Linked DNA regions of Homo sapiens. The protein of the gene in region 3 interacts with the protein of the main gene of each other region in a pairwise test. Each region holds a gene or a part of one and is shown on either strand. Other genes may lie near its edges.

The links.
Region 1: the proteins of KRT24 (region 3) and TSGA10IP interact in binary tests that used the Homo sapiens proteins (3 or more experiments, as listed by UniProt).
Region 2: the proteins of KRT24 (region 3) and TRIML2 interact in binary tests that used the Homo sapiens proteins (3 or more experiments, as listed by UniProt).

What each region holds. Positions count from the first base shown.
Region 1 is NC_000011.10:65,948,480-65,955,503, reverse strand, and holds part of TSGA10IP (testis-specific protein 10-interacting protein), read right to left. Parts: intron 1,938-7,024; coding exon 1,767-1,937; intron 1-1,766.
Region 2 is NC_000004.12:188,106,580-188,114,146, forward strand, and holds the start of TRIML2 (probable E3 ubiquitin-protein ligase TRIML2), read right to left. Parts: upstream 3,025-7,567; 5' UTR 2,664-3,024; intron 1-2,663.
Region 3 is NC_000017.11:40,700,746-40,708,609, reverse strand, and holds the start of KRT24 (keratin, type I cytoskeletal 24), read left to right. Parts: upstream 1-4,857; 5' UTR 4,858-4,916; coding exon 4,917-5,531; intron 5,532-6,676; coding exon 6,677-6,759; intron 6,760-7,313; coding exon 7,314-7,470; intron 7,471-7,864.

The sequences.
Region 1 (7,024 bases), on a different chromosome or scaffold from region 3:
GTAGCTGGGACTACAGTCGCGCGCCACTACGCCCAGCTAATTTTTGTATATATATTTTTTAGTATAGACGGGGTTTCATTACGTTGGCCAGGCTGGTCTCGAAATCCTGACCTCAGGTGATCCACTTACCTCGGCTTCCCAAAGTGTTGGGATTACAGGTGTGAGCCACGGCGTACAGCCGAGTACCTAACTCTTTTGCAAGATAAGCAGTCTTAGGGGATACCAGATGGCTACAAGTTCCCTCATACCTAGCACAGCCCAGGAAAAAAAAAACAAAAGCCCCTTATTCATAATGTAGCTTCCCCGATCTCCAGCCAATCAGCACCAAAAGCCCAAGAAGCTATTAGCTACAAATTCCTGCCTTGGAGGGAGCTAAGGACTTCTCGGGGTTCCGCATACACAGCTAGGCTCAAGGTTTAGCTTATAGCAACATTTTCCTCGTTTTGATGGTAAAAAAACACACCCCTAGGTAGAGATTGTATATGCTAATGTTACATGTGATGCGTGTTGGAGCATGCAGATGCTGAGCGCATGCGCCCACCACAGGTCCACCTTTGCATACCTGACCTCACCAGTATTTTGTGACTAGGTATAAACAACTTCCATAAAAGGAATTCCTCTTAAGGCACAAGCTGCCGTCTCTCCCTCTGAGCAGTCCTCAGGGTGGGCTTTTTTTTTTTTTTTTGAGATGGAGTTTTTGCTCTGTCGCCCAGGCTGGAGTGTAGTGGCTCAATTTCGGCTCACTGCAACCTCCATCTCCCGGGTTCAAGCAATTCTCCTGCCTCAGCCTCCCGAATAGCTAGGATTACAGGTATGTGCCACCGCACCTGGCTACTTTTTGTATTTTTAGTAGAGATGAGGTTTCACCATGTTGGTCAGGGTGGCCTTTGCTTTGCAATAAACTTTTTCTTTTGTGCGGCCAAGGGAAGAACCTGACCTGGCCCACCAGCAGCAATACTCCCTGCTTCACGGACCTGTTAGGAGTCCAAAAACGTTTGCCCACAAATCTGCTTATTAGGAAAATGGTCACGGCCAGGTGCAGTGTCTCACACCTGTAATCCCAGCACTTTGGGAGGCTGAGGCGGGTGGATCACGAGGTCAGGAGATCGAGACTATCCTGGCTAACACGGTGAAACCCCGTCTCTACTAAAAATACAAAAAAAAAAAAAAATTAGCCGGGCGTGGTGGCGGGCGCCTGTAGTCTCAGCTACTCGGGAGACTGAGGCAGGAGAATGGCGTGAAGCTGGGAGGCGGAGATTGCAGTGAGCCGAGATCGCGCCACTGCACTCCAGCCTGGGCGACAGAGCGAGACTCCGTCTCAAAAAAAAAAAAAAAGGAAAATGGTCACAATATAGGAAGAGAACAAAACGCGACTCTTCAGCTGACTGTGAACAATGGTTGTCTCCCAGAGTGGGGTCACACGGCTGTTCACCTTCTCCAGGCATTATTTCTGTAATCTTTGAAATTTTATAACAAGCATGTCTGGCATTGGAAATCAGAAAATGAAGATTTGAAAGTGTGATCATACATGTAGAATATTTTAACCTTGACCATTCAACAGCTGCAGAGATTGTCATTATTAACTGGGTGGCCTTCGACAGACCCCTTCTCCCCATGCCTCAGCGTCCTTATCTGGAAACGCGGTGAAGTGGCCTGGTTAGCCCCAGGGAAGGCGAGGGCTGGTGCTCCTCGGTCCTGTAGACTGAGACCTGACACGGCCTCCCTGCCCTCTCCCAACCAGGCCTCCCGAAGCCCAGGCTCCCTACCTCAGCTCCTCCAGCTTGCGCTGGGCCGCCCCAGGGCCCCGGCTCCCTCTGGGTGCGTAGGCTGCCAGGCAGTGGGCCACCTGCCGCTGTACATGCTGTGTCCGGGCCCGCCGCAGCTCGGCCTGCTGCCGCTCCTCCTGCCGCTGCCGCTCCCAGGCCTGCAGCAGGCTCCTTGGGTGAGAAAGGGAAGGGGAATGAGAGGTTCACGGGCAGCAGGAGCCTCACGGAGGGCCAGGGGCTGGATAAGGGAATATGGAAGCCTGTGGGGAGGGGCTGCAGTGTCCAGAGCCAGTGTCCTGGGAGTAGGGTTTGTCATGGAAGTCCATGACAGAGACTGCCCTGGAGGCTCAGCCCTCGGTCCCAGCTCAAGGCCTTTCCCTACTCTTTCTAGAAGTCTCCTGCTTCCAGGCCAGGCACGGTGGTTCATGCCTGTAATCCCAGCACTTTGGGAGGTGGAGGCAGGCGGATCACCTGAGGTCAGGAGTTTGAGACCAGCTTGGTCATCATGGTGAAACCCTGTTTCTACTAAAAATGCCAAAATTAGCCAGGCGTGGTGGCATATGCCTGTAATCCCAGCCACTCAGTAGGCTGAGGTGGGAGAATTGTTTGAACCAGGGAAGCAGAGGTTGTAGTGAGCCGAGACCACGCCATTGTACTCCAGCCTGGGCAACAAGAGCAAAACTCCATCTCAAAAAAAAAAAAAAAAAGAAAGAAAGAAAAAAGAAATGAAGGGTGCTTTGGAAGAATTAATATTGTTAAAATGTCCATATTATCCAAAGCAATTTACAGATTCAATGCAAGCCTATCAAAATTCCAATGACATTTTTCACAGAAATAGAAAAAACAATTTTAAATTAATATAGAACCACAAAATACTCCAAACAGCAAAAGCAATCTTGAGCCAAAAAAAAAGGCCAGGCATGGTGGCTCACACCTGTAACCCCAGCACTTTGGGGCTGATGCAGGTGGATCGCTTGAGCCCAGGAGTTTGAGACCAGCTTGAGCAACATGGTATATATACACAATGGTATATATTGTGTATATATTGTGTATAAAAGGTGGTCTATATATACAATGGCATTCTTCAGCCTTAAACCCCATCTGTACTGAACATACAAAAAATTAGCCAGGCATGGTGGACCAGACCTGTAGTCCTAGCTACTCGGGAGGTTAAGGTGGGAGAATCACCTGAGCCCAGGAAGTCAAGACTGCAGTGAGCCATGATTGAGCCACTGCATTCCAGCCTGGGTGACAGATTGAGACTCTGCCACACACACACAGACACATACACACACACACACCACACACACACACACACACAAAAGAAAGCTTAACGACACTTGTCTGGGCAATGGTTTTTTGGCTATGACCCAGAAAGCACAGGCAACAAAAGCTAAAATAGACAAATGAAGTTGCATCAAACTGAAAAGCTTCTGCACAGCAATGGCAACAATCAACAGAGATGACATACAGAATGGGAGAAAATATTTGCAAACCATACATCTGAAAAGGGGTTAATATCCAAAATATGTGAACTCAAGTAACTCAGTAACAAGAAAGCAAATAACTCAAAAAATGGGCAAAGGCCAGGCGCGACGGCTGTTGCCTGAAATCCCAGCACTTTGGGAGGCCAAGGCGGGCAGATCATTTGAGGTCTGGAGTTCGAGACTAGTCTGGCCAACATGGTGAAACCCTGTCTCTACTAAAAAAATACAAAAAAATTAGGCAGACCTCGTGATGTACGTCTGTAATCCCAGCTACTCAGGAGGCTGAGGCAAGAGAATCACTTGAACCTGGGAGGGGGAGGTTGCAGTGAGCCAAGATTATGCCACTGCACTCCATCCTGGGTGACGAAGTGAGGCTCCATCTCAAAAAAAAAAAAAAGGCAAAGAGTCAGGGCATGGTGACTCACACCTGTAATCTCAACACTTTGGGAGGTGGAGGCAGCAGGATCACCTGAAGCCAGGGGTTGAGACCAGCCTGGGCCACATAGCAAGACACCTATCTCTACAAATAAAAAGTTAAAAAATAAATCAGCTGGATGTGGTGGCATGCACCTGTAATCCCAGCTACTCAGGAGGCTGAGGTGAGAGGGTCACTTGTGCCCAGGAATTCAAAGCTGCAGTGAGCTATGATCGTGGCACTGCACTCTAGCCTGGGCGACAGAGCGAGACTCCATCTCAAAATAATAATAATAATAATAATAATAATAATAATAAAATAAGCAAATAACCCAAATAGACATTTCTCAAAAAAAGACATACAAATGTCTTTTTCATCACTAATCACTAATCATCTGGGAAATGCAAAATAAAATGATAATAAGATATCACCTCACGCCTGTTAGAATGACTATTACCAAAATGATGAAAGATAAGGGTTGGTGATGATGTGGAGAAAAGGGAATCTCTGTTTACTGTTGGTGGGAATATAAATTAGTACAGTCATTATAGAAAACAATATCAAGGTTCCCCAAAAAATTACAAGTAGAACTACTATGTGATCCAGCAACCCACTTCTGGGTACATATTCAAAGGAAATGAAATTAGTATGTTGAAGAGGTAGCTGTACTCCTATGTTCATTGCAGGAATATTCACAGTAGCAAAGATATGAGATCAACCTAAGATTCCATCAACAGAAGAATGGATAAAGAAAAGGTGGTATATATACACAATGGCATTCTTCAGCCTTAAAAAGAAGAAAATCCCATCATTTGCAACAACATGCATAAACCTGGAGGACACTATGTTAAGTGAAATAAGCCAGGCACAGGAAAACAAATACCATATAATCTCCCTTATGTGCCAAATCTTAAAAAAGTCAAACTCAGCATAATGGGACCCCATCTCTACCAAAATTTTAAAAATTAGCCAGCAGCCAGGTGTGGTGGCTCACGCCTGTAATCCCAGCACCTTGGGAGGCTGAGGCGGGTGGATCACGAGGTCAGGATAGCGAGACCATCCTGGCTAACACAGTGAAACCCCATCTCTACTAAAAATACAAAAACTTAGCTGGGTGTGGTGGCGGGTGCCTGTAGTCCCAGCTACTCAGGAGGCTGAGGCAGGAGAATGGCGTGAACCCGGGAGGCGGAGCTTGCAGTGAGCTGAGATCGCGCCACTGCACTCCAGCCTGGGCAACAGTGAGACAAGACTCCATCTCAGAAAAAAAAAAAAAAATTAGCCAGGCATGGTGGCTCATGACTGCAGTCCTAGAGCTCAGGAGGCTGAAGTGGGAGGATCACTTGAGCCCTGGAAGTCAAGGATGCAGTGAGCCATGATTGTGCCACTGCACTGCAGCCTGGGCAACACAGCAAGACCCTGTCTCTAAATAAATAAATAAATAAATAAAGTCAAACTCATAGAAGCAGAGAGTAGAATGGTGGTTACCAAGTCCTCACTGGGTTTGTGGGGAGAAGAAGGGAGATGTTGGTCAAAGGATAAGAAATTTCAGTTAGAGAGGAGAAATAAGTTCAAGAGATCTATTGTATGATCTGGTGTCTGTAGTTAAAAGCAATGTATTGTATACTTAAAAATCAATAAAAGAGTAGATTTTAAGTGTTCTCACTACAAAAAAAAAAATCAAGTAAGACCGGGAGTGGTGGCTCACGCCTGTGATCCCCGCACTTTGGGAGGCTGAGGCGGGCAGATCATGAGGTCTGGAGTTCGAAACCAGCCTGGCCAATATGGTGAAACCCCATCTCTATTAAAAATACAAAAATTAGCCAGGTGTGGTGGCAGGCACCGGTAATCCCAGCCATTTGGGATGCTGAGGCATGAGAATTGCTTGAACCCTGGAGACGGAGGTTGCAGTGAACTGAGATCACACCACAGCACTCCAGCCTGGGAACAGAGCAAGACTCTGTCTCAAAAAAAAAAAAAAAAAAAAACCGAGGTAATGCATATGTTAATTAGTTTGATTTAGACCTTCAACAATATAAACATATTTCAAAACCTCATGTTGTACACCATAAATACAATTTTTATTTATCAATTACATAAAATAAATTTTAAAAAAAGAATTGTGGCTGGGCGCAGTGGCTCATGCCTATAATCCCAGCACTTTGGGAGGCCGAGGCGGGCAGATCACGAGGTCAGGAGTTCAAGACCAGCCTGGCCAACATAGTAAAACCCCGTCTGTACTAAAAATACAAAAATTAGCCAGGCGTGGTGGTGGGCTCCTGTAGTCCCAGCTACTTGGGAGGCTGAGGCAGGAGAATCACTTGAACCTGGGAGTCGGAGGTTGCAGTGAGCCAAGACTGTGCCACTGCACTCCAGCCTGGGCAACAGAGTGAGACTCCATCTCAAAAAAAAAAAAAATTGTGGGGTGCTATAAGAATGCTGAATGAACTCTCCCCTGCCCTCACATGCCTCCTGTCACCAGTCACCATGGCCTATTGAACCAGCCTCTAAGTGTCTCTTAAATGGATCCCCTCCCTCCATCCACAGGGCCTCTTGGTTCCTCACCTCAGTGTTGCCAACAGTCTCCTCACAGCCTCCAGTCTCCCCTTCAGCTCCCACTGTCTCCTTTGCTTTAGAAACAGAGGCTCGCTCTGTTGTCCAGACTAAAATTCAGTGATGTCATCATGGCTCACTGCAGCCTTGATCTCCTGGGCTCAAGAGATCCTCCTGACTCAGCCTCTGGAGTAGCTGGGGCTACAGACACTTTCCACCAAGCCAGGCTAATCTTTTTTTTTTCCTTTGTAGAGACAGGGGTCTAGCTATGTTGACCAGGCTGGGTTTTTTGTTCGTTTGTTTGTTCGTTTGAGACAGAGTCTCACTCTGTCACCCAGGCTGGAGTGCAGTGCTGCAATCTCAGCTCACTGCAACCTCCGCCTCCCAGGTTCAAGTGATTCTCATGTCTCAGCCTCCTGAGTAGCTGGGACTCCAGGCACACACCACCATACTTGGATAATTTTTTATATTTTCAGTAGAGACAGGGTTTCGCCATGTTGCCCAGGCTGGTCTCGAACTCTTGAGCTCAGACAATCCACACGCCTTGGCCTCCCAAAGTGCTAGGATTATAGGCGTGAGCCACCACGCCCGGCCCCTTAACTTCTTTTTTAGAGACAGTGTCTCACTCTGTTGCCCATGCTGAATGCAATGGTGGGATCATAGCTCACTGCAGTCTTGATCTCCTGAACTCAAGAGATCCTCCTACCTCAGCCTCCTGAGTAGCTGGGACTACAAGCACGTGTCACCATGCCCAGCTAATTCCAAGTCTTTTAATAGTTATATCCTAAGGGCCCATGAGTAGATAA
Region 2 (7,567 bases), on a different chromosome or scaffold from region 3:
CGGAGCTACACGCCCTCCAGGTGACCGGCCAGGAGACGGTCTCCCAGGTCGCGGCTCAGGCAGCGCCACTGGAGGGCTTCGCCCCGGAAGATCTATCGTGCTCCTGGCAGGCGCGTCCCTGCAGGGCGAGGCCACCCTGGACCAGGGCGAAGTGGGAGGCCCCGACTGCCCGGGAGGCCAAGTCCGTGGTTCCCCGGCCCGCGCTGGGAAAGTGACAGGTCAGACTCTTGCTAAGGTGGCCAAGCGAGAAGACAGGCCGGGCTGAGCCGCGGGTGCGGTACCACCGGCGCTTTGTCGACGTTGTGCCCATCTTTGGCAAGAAGAAGGGCCCCAATGTCCTTCTTAAGTCCTTTGTAATTCTGGCTTTCTCTATTAAAAAAGCCACTTAGCTCGAAAACTTTTTTCTCAGAAAAATGTTTTTGTTTTTATTATTTTATTAACTTATTTATTTATTTTTGAGACCGAATCTCTGTCGCCCAGGCTGGAGCACAGTGGCACGATCTCAGCTCACTGCAACCTCCGCCTCCCGGGTTCAACCGACTCTCCTGCCTCAGCCTCCCGAGTAGCTGGGACTACAGGCGCGTGAAACCACACCCAGCTAATTTTTTGTATTTTTAGTAGAGACGGGGTTTCACCGTGTTGGCCACACTGATCTGGAACTCCTGACCTCAGGTTATCTGCCCGCCTCAGCCTCAGTGCTGGGATTACAGGTGTGACCCACCGTGCCTGGCTTGTTTTTATTATTTTAAATGAATAACTATAAAATGCAGTTTTAAATTTCTAATACAGTAAACATAGATATTAACGCTCATAAACAAAAGCTTATTGGGATCTTCGTCAATAATGAGTGCAAAGGAGTACTGATTCCAAAAAGTTGAGAATCTTGGCCTGAAAAGGCATATTCCCCACAAATAGGACTGTGAATGAATGCATCCATAATTTTGATATGTTTTGTCAGTTTCCCAAGCACAAAAGTTGTACAATTTTGCACTCCAAGCAACAAATTAAAAAGATGTTAAACTTTTGGATCATTGCCCACTGGCTGGGTGAGAAATAGTGTATTCATATATTTTCAACTTCCATCTGTTATATTATTAATATGTCTAAGCCTTTTATTTTCATATGCTAAAAAACCATTTTCACTTCTTTTGCTGTGAAGTCTATGTTCAAGCCTCTCTCTCAGTTTATTCCATCAGGTTTGGCCTTTTTGGAGGGAGGGGTCAATTTTAAGAGAGAGCTATAGATCCAAGTTCCTGTAAATTGTGTGAGTTGCAAATACTTTCTCCCTCCTTCCTTGTTTTTGATGCTCTCATCCTTTCTTCTGCTTAGGTCTTTGAAATCCCTGCTGGTTTCCCGTGTCTTAGGTCCCTGAACATGTCCGAGATGACTCCACTGAGTCACCAAAACAAAGAAATTCACCAACTCAAATTTTTCCTTGAGCTCTCAGCAGCAGTTAACATAGCTGACCACACCCTTCTTCCTAGAATGTTTTCTTCTCTCATCTGTCTGCAGCTGACATTCCTCTAACTTGTCTGGTCTTGTTCTCCGTGGCCTTTTCTGGTCCCACATCCTCTGAACCTCTCAATCTTGGGGTGCTTCAAGGTTGAGTTCTGGTCTCCCAGTCCTGGTCTCTCCCTAGGTAATCTTACTCGTTTCTGAAGATTTAAGTTCCATTCTCCGATTTCAATCTCCTGCCCAATTCCCAACATTTTTGCAATAGAATGTCTAAGGAGCACTCAAAATTAACATATCTAAAGCCGCTCAGGATCTCAACCCAGTGGCTCTCTTCCCCCAAACTCATTCCTTTAGAGCCACAGTTTAAGCCTTCCTTTCACCAATTCAACTATTGTTTTCCAAATTTATATTCTGTCCTGCCCTCCTCGTCCATCTCCAGCTCCTCTCTGCTCAACCACCAGAATACTATTTTAAAACCAAAACCAAGTGAGCAGGTTTGTGGTCACTTTCTATGGCATTAGAGTAAGATCGAAGTGGGTAATAACCCCGTCCTATACAATCTGGCCTCCTGCCTTCTTCTGATCTCTCTATAGCTTTCCCCCATCACTGTCAATCTAGCTGCCTCTAATTCATCACAGCCCTTCCCCCTTCCGTGGCCAACAGAGCTCTTCTCTCATATTTTTGCAATTCCAGCTGCCTCTTCTTTCTTCTCTTCAGTTCTCAGCTCAAATGTCTTCCCAAGAGAGACCTTTCCATCACTACTCAATTTGAAATACCTTCCCACTACTCATCTCCTTATTTTATTTTCTTAGTAGCGAAAAGATTTTATCTTTCTATGAACAAGTTTACTTGTGGGTCACTCTCCATCCATAAGAAACTAAGTCCTTGAGATGCCCTGTGTCTACATCTGACATACTCGATGCACAATAAATATTGTAAACGATATTTTATGTTAAACCAGTAAAAATTGAAGGTGTAATGAGAGAGGGACAGAGACTAAATATTTTTACAGAAACAGCAAAGGAAAATTGACGAATTAAGTCCCCAGCATGTTGTCTACCCTTATTTTGTTTTTCCTAATATTTTTCTTCAGGCTTTTTCCTGATAACACACAGATACACACACACACACATAGATTCTAAGATCAAGTTTAGAAATCTAAAGAAACAATTATTAAGAAAATGATCTATAGAGAAAATCTCACTTACTTTCTTTGTAGCAATCCTGGGTATTTCCTTTTTTTTTTTTTTTTTTTTTTTTGAGACAGGGTCTTGCTCTGTCACCCAGGCTGGAATGCAGTGGCGCAATCTCGGCTCACTACAGCCTCGAGCTCCCAGGCTCAAGTGATTCTCCCACCTTGACCTCCTGAGTAGCTGGGATTACAGGCGCTGCACGACCACACCCGGCTAATTTTTGTATTTTTTGTAGAGACGGGGTTTCAGTATTTTTCCCAGGCTGGTCTTGAACTCCTGGGCTCAAGCAATCTGCCTGCTTCAGCCTCCCAAAGTACTGGGATTACAGGAATGAGTCACCACACCGAACCAAGGTATTTCCTTTAGGGAAAAAGCTGGAACAGTGGAGACTGAAGAGATTTTATCTGTTCAATTCCTCCCTCAGCCCCGCCCTCACACCATCAGGAAGGCGTCTGTGAAGTTTCTTATCATATTCACACAATTAATCTCATTAGAACCACCTGAGTTTATTAAAACGCAAGCCTCTTCACAGGGTCTCTGATTCCAGAAATCTACGGTGGGGTCCGTAATTTACATTTTTAATGGACTCCCAGAAAATGCTTAATAGCCCTGACCTTGGTTGGATAAATATCTTGTTTTATCTCCAGTGCCATGTACAGTGCCTAACACCTCTAGCTCCTTAAGGTTTGGGGTTTTCTTTCTTAATGAATCTAGTGTATATTGACAATTTCACAGGAAAGAAGCCTTCGAGCTAACACTCAAGACTGTGTTTGTTCCTTAGTAGAAAATAATGCCTGACTTGTTAGTTTCTAGAACGTTTGCTGGAGAAGTGTTCATTCCAGTATCTGTGGAAAGAAAAACCAAGAGTAGGGATAACTGCCTATGGAATCTGTCACAGATGGGAGGTCAGGGAACAATCCCAGATAATTCATACTTGATATTTGGCTTCAGTGAGGAGGAACTCTTCACAGCTTTCTAAGTTTTATAGTTTTGTCCCCGAGGGTTTTTATTGCATCAGTCAGTCAATCCCCTGCTAATCAAACCAGGGAGTTTTTTTCTTTATGCTGCTGACAGGATAATGAGAATTCTTCTGCTTTGCTTATCTGATCTTTCAGAACCTGGTTCTACCTTATGGAATCTCAATACACCGTTTCTCTTTTTCTTTTTTCTTTCTTTTTTTTTTTTTTTAGATGAGAGTCTCACTCTGTTGCCTAGGCTGGAGTGCGGTGGAGCGATCTCGGCTCACTGCAGCCTCCGCCTCCCAGGTTCAAGCAATTTTCCCACTTCAGCCTCCCGAGTAGCTGGGATTATAGGCGCCCACCACACCCAGCTAATTTTTGTATTTTTAGTGGAGATGGGGTTTCACCATGTTGGCCAGGCTGGTCTCAAACTCCTGACCTCAGGTGACCCACCCTCCTTGGCCTCCAAAAGTTCTGGCCACCGCGCCTGGCCATACACCCTTTCTCTTATCTCAGATGATTACCTACACCCACTCTCTTTTCCAAAACCCAATTCCCCAGCTTTCTTCAAATAGACCACATTTATTCCTGTGCCCCCTCCCCTCCTCAGCCAGTCCATCCTCCTTTACTTCTCTTATTTTTCTAATCCAATCTTCCTTTCTCTTCTAAGCCTGGGTACGGCCAACGTCTGTGAAGATACTCACACATACTTGTTGTCAGATACTCTGTCATTTACTCTCACCATCCCTTGAGCTTTCATAACTCTTGAGCTTACTCATCTTGACAAGAAAACTTTGTAATCTTTGAATCAAATGGAAAATAAACATCAAGCATATTGTCAGGTTTTGAAGTCTCTTAAAGCCTGTTTTAGAGTATTAAATGCTTAAATAAATACTTATTAAAGCCTGTTTTACTATTAAATAAATATTTATTAATAATTAAATTATTAATTCTAGAAGAGTCAATATTTTAAGATAATTCTAAAAACATTACAAAAAAGTGTGCTAAACCCTTATTTACTGTTACATGCCCCACCTGTTGCATGCTCCAACCCCGTGAGGTACATCTGCAGCTGATGAAGTAGATGACGTAGAGATTAAGTCACGGGATTAAGTAATTGACCAAGAGCACTGGGTGCAGAAAATTGAAGATATGGAATTTGAATCGGGTGCCAAATTTCATGATATTTCCTTATTATAATTATTTGTCCTTATTAAATATTAATCAAATGGCTTGACAATTTACAAAAAAGATGCCTCAAATTTGTATGACAATTTATCACGAGATGCTTTCATAGGGCTAGAGTAATCACATTACAAGGAACACAGATCATTTTAAGGTAGTTAGATTTTTCATAGGAAAACTTTTCATTAAAATGAAAATCCTGAAGAAATGTAGTTTTTTTTCACTGTCAAAGAACAAATACAATTATGAATGAGTGAGTCATTGTTCTCCTGAGTCATTTCATGAACTTATAACAGTCGTATCCCAGCCGGGCACTCTGGCTCATGCCTGTATCCCCAGCACTTTGGGTGACCGAGGCGGGTGGATCACTTGAGGTCAGGAGTTCGAGACCAGCCTGGCCAACATGGGAAACCTCATCTCTACTAAAAATACAAAAATTAGCCGGAAATTGCTTGAACCCAGGAGGCGGAAGCTGTAGTGAGCCAAGATCGTGCCACTGCACTCCAGCCTGGGCAACAGAGCAAGACTCGGTCTCAAAAAACCAGGACAAAACAAAAACAGTCCTGTCCCCTTTGTTAGCCACATCACCTTCACCACTCGCCCCAGGCTGGCATACTCTCGGCTTCTGGGTGGGATGAGTATGGCTGGTGCCAAACAAGGCTGTATTTGTTACTTTGGACCAAATCTGCGGCAGGAGACTACCACCTCCTCCCATTCCAGAAAAGAACAGCTGGAGGCGGGGGTGTGCTGGTTGTGGTCCCAGTGTTATCACTCATCTGGAAGGTGTGGCTTCTCTCTGGCTCCTTTTCTCCAAGGCTGCTCCATTAGAAGCAGGGGCTTGGCTCTCACTGGTTTACTTCCCACAGCTCTAAGAGGTCCAGAAGTCATGTTCAACTGCTTCTTCCTTGCTTAAGAAAGCATTAAAACTTAAGAATCAGGCCAGGCGCAGTGGCTCACGCCTGTAATCCCAGCACTTTGAGAAGCCGAGGCAGGCGGATCACCTGAGTTCCGGAGTTCGAGACCAGCCTGATCAACATGGAGAAACCCCGTCTCTACTAAAAATACAAAATTAGCCGGGCGTGGGCGCATGCCCAGCTACTCAGGAGGCTGAGGCAGGAGAATCACTTGAACCCAGGAGGTGGAGGTTGCAGTGAGCCGAGATCGCGCCACTGCACTCCAGCCTGGGCAACAAGAGCAAAGCTCTGTCTCAAAAAAAAAAAAAAAAAATTAAGAGTCAAACATTATGGGGGCCGGGCACTGTGGCTCATGCCTGTAATCCCAGCACTTTGGGAGGCCGAGGCAGTTGGATCACAAGGTCAAGAGATCAAGACCATCCTGGCCAACATGGTGAAACCTTGTCTCTACTAAAAATATAAAAATTAGCTGGGCATGGTGGCGGGCACCTGTAATCCCAGCTACTTGGGAGGCTGAGGCAGGAGAATCGTTTGAACCCGGTAGGCAGAGGTTGCAGTGAGCCGAGATCACAGCCACTGCACTCCAGCCTGGGCGACAGAGCAAGACTCTGTTTCAAAAAAAAAAAAAAAAAAGAATCAAACATTATGGTCGACCTCATGATAGCACAGTTACCCATTTGTTGTTGTAAGTCAGTGCATGCTTATCTGAACCCAACATGTTCAGTTTGCTTGCACTCTTTTGTAAGGAAGATAATCCTCCTAACAATTCCAGCAGAATTAAGAGGTCACCTTCACCTCACCTATTACAACACCGGGACAAGCCCTATCGGTTTTCACCAGACAGAATACCCTCAGCAAAAGGAACGGGCTGGTTTAACTGAAATCAGTGAATCCTGAGCAAATAAACTTCGGATTTTTGCCAAAGTTCACAGGCTGAGGAAAGCATCATGTCTCATGGATGAAGTTAGACTGACGTGGGCTCTGATTCCAGCTTGGCCACACACTTGTCATGACCTGCAGCAAGCCACTGAACGCTGAGCATCACTTGCACCATGAGTCACCGTCACCATCTTCCACAAGTCTCTGAGCATTAGGAGAGGTTCGATGAAATACACGTAGGAGCGAGGAGGGTGGTAATGAGAACAGAAATTGCTCTCTGAATGAGTATGCTTCCTCTCCTCACCCAGAGTCATTCTTTTCAGCAAAGTCAAGAGCACGGCCCTCTACATAAGGGAGAGTGCAGCCGGGAAGGTGATGGAGGTGGTAGAGATGAATTATTGGCATATGGGAAATAAAGAGATCTTTGATGCCCTTTTCAGTTTCTTTTGTTTAATAATATATATATTAGTAATGTAGTAATTGCGTAATTGATATCAAGGCATATATTCAGCTTTTATTAATGTAATGTTTATCTGAAAACTTTTAGGCCACTGGTATAATTTTTTTTTTTTTGATACTGAGTCTTGCTCTGTCACTCAGGTTGGAGTGCAGTGGCACGATCTCAGCTCACTGCAACCTCCGCCTCCTGGGTTCAAGTGATTCTCCCACCTCAGCCTCCCGAGTAGCTGAGACTACAGGTGTGTGCCACCATGCCCAGCTAATTTTTGTATTTTTAATAGAGACAGGGTTTCACCATATTGGCTAGGATTGTCTCGATCTCCTGACCTCGTGATCGACCCACCTTGTCCTCCCAAGGTGCTGGGATTACAGGTGTGAGCCACCGTGCCCGGCCACTGGTATAAATTTTTAGGAAGAATTTTTTTCTGTTCCATTATAGTCAGTTTCAACAATAAAGCCTCATTGTCAAGATATTAAAATCGCTGGGCATGGTGGCGCCCACCTGTAGTTCCAGCTACTTGGG
Region 3 (7,864 bases):
CAGAGGGCAGCAGGAGGTTGAGGGGTCAAGCTGGAAGAGACAGAGCAGGAAGGCCCAGTGTATCAACTTAGCATTGGCAAGAGGCACAGGGGCTAGGCCCTACTGCTCAAGTTATGATCTGGATTGTTCATGCTTTTGGATTCTCTGAAGAGAAGACTACTGTCTGTCTGGTATGAAGAAAGGCACAAAAGGACTTTTTAAGCAGAGCTAATCCTTGAAAACTGTGCTTATTTCAAACTGTCTTATCTGTGGAGCCTGGAGGACAAAGCATCCCAACCCCCGCAAAGTCACTCACCCATTCTCTTAATTCTCCATAAACTCACGGAAAGATCTTCAGGAAACATAGAGAATTGAGTTATTTAAAGAGATTTGAAAGCACTCACATACAAGAACAAAGCCAGGTGATTTTTCTTCCCAGAACAAAATTTGGCAAAATGGCATGACCAAGCAGATGCTTCCTGGTGGAGAAGAGGAAGCCTTCAAATAGACACACTTAAGTGAAACCAGGAAGAGAAAGAATGGACGAGGGTGGTGGGGAAGGAGAGAAAGTGATGAAGGAAGAGAAACAGCCACAGAATTGGTGGATTTCTGGGGTGTGACAATGACACACCCAATCCATCGACGGGTGGTGCCAGATCTACTGGAGTGGGCTCTTAGTCATGTTATTATTGCAAAACCTTTTTTCTCTTCCAAGTAGTTGACCCTGGCGGGGCCTAGAGCAGCCACCAGCAGGAAGCTGGCCCAAACAATGATTCCCTACAGGAAGGTCCCCGGTTGACTCTTGCCTGACCTTTCTGCCCTCTTCCCAAACAACATTTCCTCTTACTGCCAAGCCCCGCTCTCCGCCACCACACACTGAGAATCACTAACCCAGAAGTGGAGCATAAAGATTCAGAAAACAAAACACAACACATAGTAAAGAACAAAAGTAATCAGTGATCCAAGTTGTTCATGAAGAAAATCAGGCCATGTTAGTTTTTATTAATTCAAGGAATATTTATTGTCTATCTACTATCTGTCATTGCAACGGCATTGCAAAGAGACTGTTCACACATCAAATTTATACTTTCCAATGTGTCCAAAAGAAAGAAAATTGCTATATTAAAGAGATGTCTGTGCTCCCATGTTTATTACAGCACTACTGACAAGATTTAGAAGCAACCTAAGCATCCATCAACAGTAGAATGGATAAAGAAAAAGTGGCACAGGTCAGGCGCGGTGGCTCATGCCTGTAATCCCAGCACTTTGGGAAGCCAAGGAGGGCGGATCACGAGGTCAGGAGTTCAAGATCAGCCTGGCCAACATGGTGAAACCCTGTCTCTACTGAAAATATGAAAATTAGCTGGTCATGGTGGTGGGTGCCTGTAATCCCAGCTACTCGGGAGGCTGAGGCAGGAGAATCGCTTGAACACAGGAGGTGGAGGTTGCAGTGAGCCGAGATCGCGCCATTGCACTCAAGTCTGGGTGACGAGAGTGAAACCTGTCTTAAAAAAAAAAAAAAGTGGCACATATACACAACGGAGTACTATTCAGTCATGAAAAGAATGAGATCTTGTCATTTGCAACAACGTGGATGAAACTGGAGGTCATTATGTTAAGTGAAATACGCCAAGCACAAAAAGACAAACTTTGTGTATTCTCACTTACTTGTGGGAGCTAAAAATTCAAACAATTGAACTCATGAAGATAGAGAGTAGAATGATGGTTATCAGAGGCTGGGAAGGGAAACGGGGGAGTAGGGGAAAAGTGAGGACGCTTGATGGGTACCAAAAATAGTTAGAAAAATGAATAAGACCTAGTGTTTCATAGTATAACAGAGTGACTATAGTCAATAATAATTTACTTGTATAATTTATAATAACTAAAAAATAGTATAATTGGAATGTTTGTAACACAAAGGATAAGTGCTGGAGGTGATGGGTACCCCATTTACCCTGATGGGATATGTACACCTATATCAAAATATCTTATGTACCCCATAAATCTATATACCTACTATGCACCCACAAAAGTTAAAAGTTAAAATTTTTTTAAATGTATATTTTCCCTTCTTTTTTACTGTCTGCCACAGAAAGTTTTGTCAACATTCAACAAATACTCTAAACCCAGCAACTTCCCTTAACTACTCTGATGTGATGCTTCTATTTGAAAAACACAAAACAGTATATTTTCTTGAATGAACAGAAGATAGAATACCCAAGTTCTGTTCTCAATTCTGTAAAGATTCATCAGGAGCCATATGCCATGCATTTCAGTATTTGGTTTTCCTACTAGTCTAAAAACCTGCAATATGTTAATCTGAAAAATATTTAAATACTAATAATCTATCCCCCACACACACAAAAAAAAATTGATGGTTACTATCTGCAAATCATTCTGCACTTATTATTAAAATCATATTCTATAAGGAAATATAGCTTTTATATGTTTCTTTACAGGTAGAAATAAACTTCTAATCACAAACTATTCAAAATTTGAACTGGGAGCCCAGACACCTAAGATTCAGTCTGTCTCTCTCTCTCTGTCTTTTTTTTTTTTTTTTTTTTGAGATGGAGTCTCGCACTGTCGCCCAGGCTGGAGTGCAGTGGCACAATCTCTGCTCACTGTAAGCTCCACCCACCGGGTTCAAGCAATTCTCCTGCTTCAGCCTCCGAAGGAGCTGGGATTTAAACGTGCTTTCAGCCAAATGCAAGTCTTTATGAAAATTGAAAGATTACATTTCATAGTTTTAAAAGGGAGAAACACTCTGTGACTGTTCCTCCCATTGCCAGCATTTGCATACCATTTAATCATTAGGGTTTAGTTTTCTTTGGTTTCACAGCTTTAGGGATGGGCGAGGCAGGATGACCAACACATTATGTGTGGTGCATTTTTTAGCTACTTTAGAAGGGCGTTATAAAAATTACTCCCAGCTTAACAATTTAAAATTTTGTACACCATGTACCCCTTGGAGATATGTCACCCTAAATATGAAGAAGAGTAACATCATACTCCTGTGAAAACAGTACAGGTAGATCATAAAAGCCACATAAGAGCTACATAGTAAAGTGAATGATTACCTATTTAATCATGTGTCCCAATAAAATGCAATTTAAGGAAAAATTTAAAGCAGAACATTGTTTAACAAATAATTGAATATAAAGATTAAGGTGTGAACATAGTTTAACAGAGACTGGCAAAAGAAGGAAGAAATTCTTAAATAAACAAAAGTCAGCTACTTAAGTTTAAAGCTAAGGAGGATACAAACTATTTCTGGAAGCACCTGTTTTTTAAGACTTTTTAAAAATTGTGGTAAAATACATATAACATAAACTTATCATCTTCATCATTTATAAGTTTACAGTTCAGTAGTCTTAAGTGTACTGACATTGTTGTGCAACCAATCTCCCAAACTCTTTTCTTTTTTTTTTTTTTAGACGAGTCTCACTCTGTCTCTGAGGCTGGAGTCCAGTGGCACAATCTTGGCTCACTGCAACCTCTGCCTCCCGGGTTCAAGCAATTCTCTGCCTCAGCCTCCCAAGTAGCTAGGATTTCAGGCGCCTGCCACCATGCCTGGCTAATTTTTTGTATTTTTAGTAGAGACGGGATTTCACCATCTTGGCCAGGCTGGTCTCGAACTCCTGACCTCAGGTGATCCACCTGCCTCGGCCTCCCAAAGAGCTGGGATTACAGGTGTGAGCCACCACGCCTGGCCCCAAACTCTTTTCATATTGCAAAATTAAAATTCTATGCCCAGTAAGCAACAACTGTCTATCCCCAACCCTTCGGCCACTGGCAACTACCATTCTACTTTCTGTCTCTGTGAATTTGACTACTCTAGGCACCTCATAGTACTGGAATTATACAGTATCTGTCTTTCAAAAAGACACTATTAAACCGGTGAAGTGACTAGAAGACATGAATGGAAACAGTCTAAAATACAAAGGGACAAAAAGCCATGAAGCACAAAGGGAGCTCAGGAGGGTTCAGAATCTATAAAATAACTCCAATTGTAACACTAGTTATCAGAAGTAGATACAAATCCTCTTTTATCTTTAAAACGAAGGCAGGAGATATCTGCATCATCTCTTCATTTCTTGAAATTTGACTCAAAAAGGAAGTTGCTGTCTTTATATCAGACTAGAATTCAACCAGAAAGAAAATCGTATTAAAACAATCTGCCTAAAAGCTTTTCAATCTTTCTTAGACATTAGCTACTTGAATAAACATGTTGCTGAGATGTAATAATACTTACCTAGAAAACTATTATTTATGTTTTTCTTATGAACTATAAAACATAATTGTTACAAATTATATGCTTTTTTGTATATTATACAAAATACAAAAAAAGAAAGCAATAACTTAAAATCACAAACTTCAACAACCTTAAAAAACACGCTGATTGAAATAATCAAAGAGATGGATGCTTAATCAAATCTGAAATTATTGCTGATGTGAAAGCTAATTTCAACTTTTGAGAACAATATGAACAAAAAAGTTACATGATTGATGGGAAATTTTTATTCTCATCATATTAAGTATTTTAATTACATTTGTTAACCTGGAGATATTCTCTGCAAATGTGAAATCATGAAGCAAATTTAATAGAACTACACTTCCAGAGAAAAGTTACCAATCATCAAAACCTCTGAAAGATTAAAACTGTAATTCTGAAAATTTTTTTGTTTTGCTCCACTTTATTCTTTTTTTATTGATATAGTAAATGTCCCAGGGCTCTGACCTAGCTTCAGAGAAGTGTTCAAGAAACAGAAATTATCCAATTACGGATTACCAAAACTGTAACAGGGATTAAGAAGTGACAGAGAAAAGGAACACCCTCGAAGTGTGTATATAAAGGCCAAAAAGGCAGCCTTGAATACACTCTTCGTCATCACCTCTCCTATTCGCCTGGACAAGCTCATGTTTGCAGGAGCACCATGTCTTGCTCGTCTCGCGCCTCCTCCTCCAGGGCTGGAGGCAGCAGCTCAGCCAGGGTGTCTGCTGGTGGAAGCAGCTTCAGCAGTGGAAGCAGATGTGGTCTGGGGGGCAGCTCGGCCCAGGGCTTCCGAGGAGGAGCCAGCAGCTGCAGCCTGAGTGGGGGGTCTAGCGGTGCTTTTGGGGGCAGCTTTGGAGGGGGCTTTGGTAGCTGCTCAGTAGGGGGTGGTTTTGGGGGAGCTTCAGGCTCTGGGACAGGATTTGGTGGGGGTTCTAGCTTTGGCGGGGTCTCTGGATTTGGCAGGGGTTCTGGATTCTGTGGGAGTTCTAGATTCAGCAGTGGTGCTACTGGAGGCTTCTACAGCTATGGTGGTGGTATGGGAGGTGGTGTTGGCGATGGGGGGCTTTTCTCTGGAGGGGAAAAGCAAACCATGCAGAACCTCAATGACCGCTTGGCCAATTACCTAGACAAGGTCAGAGCCCTGGAGGAGGCTAACACTGATCTGGAGAACAAAATCAAGGAGTGGTATGACAAATATGGGCCTGGGTCTGGAGACGGTGGATCGGGAAGAGATTATAGCAAATACTATTCAATAATTGAAGATCTCAGAAACCAGGTGAGACTATCTGTGCCTGAGTTTCTATTATTTGTGGATCTTTCACTTCTTTTCAGATCATGTACTATAATGAAAATTTTAAGAAATTATTTGAAAACATATTTGCTTGTTACATATGCAAAGTGGGACCTGATGTGTCTTAATTATTATAGTACCTTATGTGATGTCCAATCACATTAATTTTCTGTTTCCATCTCAGTTTCAGTATTTCTACATAACAGTAAAACTTATACAACACCAGGCAGCTAATTATCATTTATATATAAGAATGGTGGCAGTGAGTCAACATTAGTTTAATCTAATTATTTATGATGAATTCTGACAGACTGACACATTTTATTGTCTTACAAGATTTAAATATTCTTTAGTATTATTTTTCTTCCCAGAAAATCTGGTGCAAACATTACATAAGAATGTAGTAGAATCTAAAATGTTTAGCCACTTTTGTATGGGAAATATATTTTTAAAGACTTTTTTGGAAGTGAAATACAATTTTTGCACTATTTTCTGAAAAAGCTCATGAGATAATGATCTAACAAAGTAGCAGAAATATGCAGAGGACTATGTCCTGTAAAACAGGTTCCTGTGCCTAGTCCAATAAATGTGCAGACTGTTATCTTTTTGCAGAAAGATGTAGTCCTAAATATACCAGCCCCAGATATACAGGTCTGGGGCTGTATACTTAGTCATTACTAAGTAAGTTTGCAAAGCAAGTCACCTTTAAAAGCTAATAGCACAGGCCGGGCACGGTGGCTCACACCTGTAATCCCAGCACTTTAGGAGGCTGAGGCGGGCAAATCACTTGAGGTCAGGAATTTGAGATTAGCCTGGCCAACATGGTGAAACCCCGTGTCTACTAAAAACACACACACAAAAAAAATTAGCCGGGCATAGTGGCACGCCCCTGTAATCCCAGCTACTCAGGAGGCTGAGGCTCAAGAATCGCTTAAACATGGGAGGCGGAGGTTGCAGTGAGCTGAGATCTTGCCACTGCACTCCAGCCTGGGCGACAGAGCGAGACTCTGTCTCTACACACACACAAAAAAAAGAGCTAATAACACAGGCAACAGCTACCCTTACAAGTAGGCATGCAGACACAAGGTAAAAATCATTCGTGATTCACTCACTATTAACATCTTTTTTAGATCATTGCTGCCACTGTTGAAAATGCTGGGATCATTTTGCACATTGACAATGCCAGATTGGCTGCTGATGACTTCAGACTGAAGTAAGAAACATAAAGACTTGAAAACAAGTGTTACGGGAGAAAAATAAATTTTATTCCATTTTATAAATAAATATATATATATATATATATATATATATATATATATATATATATATATATATATATACTAGAGGATCATGACCTAAATTTACAAACATCCCAAGGGTAAACTTTAGACCATTAGACAAATCTCCACTGATGCTGGGGCAGGTAGATCCTCTCTGCTGAGCACCTAAGCCAGTAGCTACACACCGGCCGCTTCTGCTCCTTTCATCAGCCTACAACAGCTGCAAAAGAAAAAAGAAAAAGAAAAAAGAAAGAGGCAAATTTAGAATGAGAATTTTATTATTAAAAATGTTAGACATGATTAGAATTAACATTACATTGGTATTTTTCTTTACAAGGGAAAATTTCCCAAGAGAAAACTTAATAACCTTTATTTATTAAAATGCCCACAAGTGAGAACTTTTTCAATATGTAAGAATGGAAGGTACCCTTTGAAACACGGCCAGGTGAGCTCACAGTATTTTTTGCCTTACTGCTGCCCCTTCCAGGTATGAGAACGAGCTGTGTCTCCGGCAGAGCGTGGAGGCTGACATCAATGGCCTGCGGAAAGTCCTGGATGACCTGACTATGACCCGCTCTGACCTGGAGATGCAGATTGAGAGTTTCACCGAGGAGCTAGCCTACCTGAGGAAGAACCACGAGGAGGTAGGAACATGTTCTACATAAACGAATAACTCTAGCTAACATATTTCTCCCCATATGCATTCTATACAAATAAAATTGGCTGGGTGCAGTGGCTCATGCCTTTAGTCTCAGCTACTCTGGAGGCCGAGGCAGGGGGATCCCTTGAACCCAGGAGTTGGAGGCCACAGTGAGCTATGATCATGCCACTGGATTCCAGCCTGAGCAACAGAGAGATACTGTGTCTCTAAAAAAGTAAAATAGGCCTGGCACGGTGGCTTATGCCTGTAATCTCAGCACTCTGGGAGGCCAAGGCAGGCAGATCATGAGATCAGGATTTCGAGACCAGCCTGACCAACATGGTGAAACCCCCTCTCTACTAAAAATACAAAAATAAACAGGGCATGATGGCGCACAC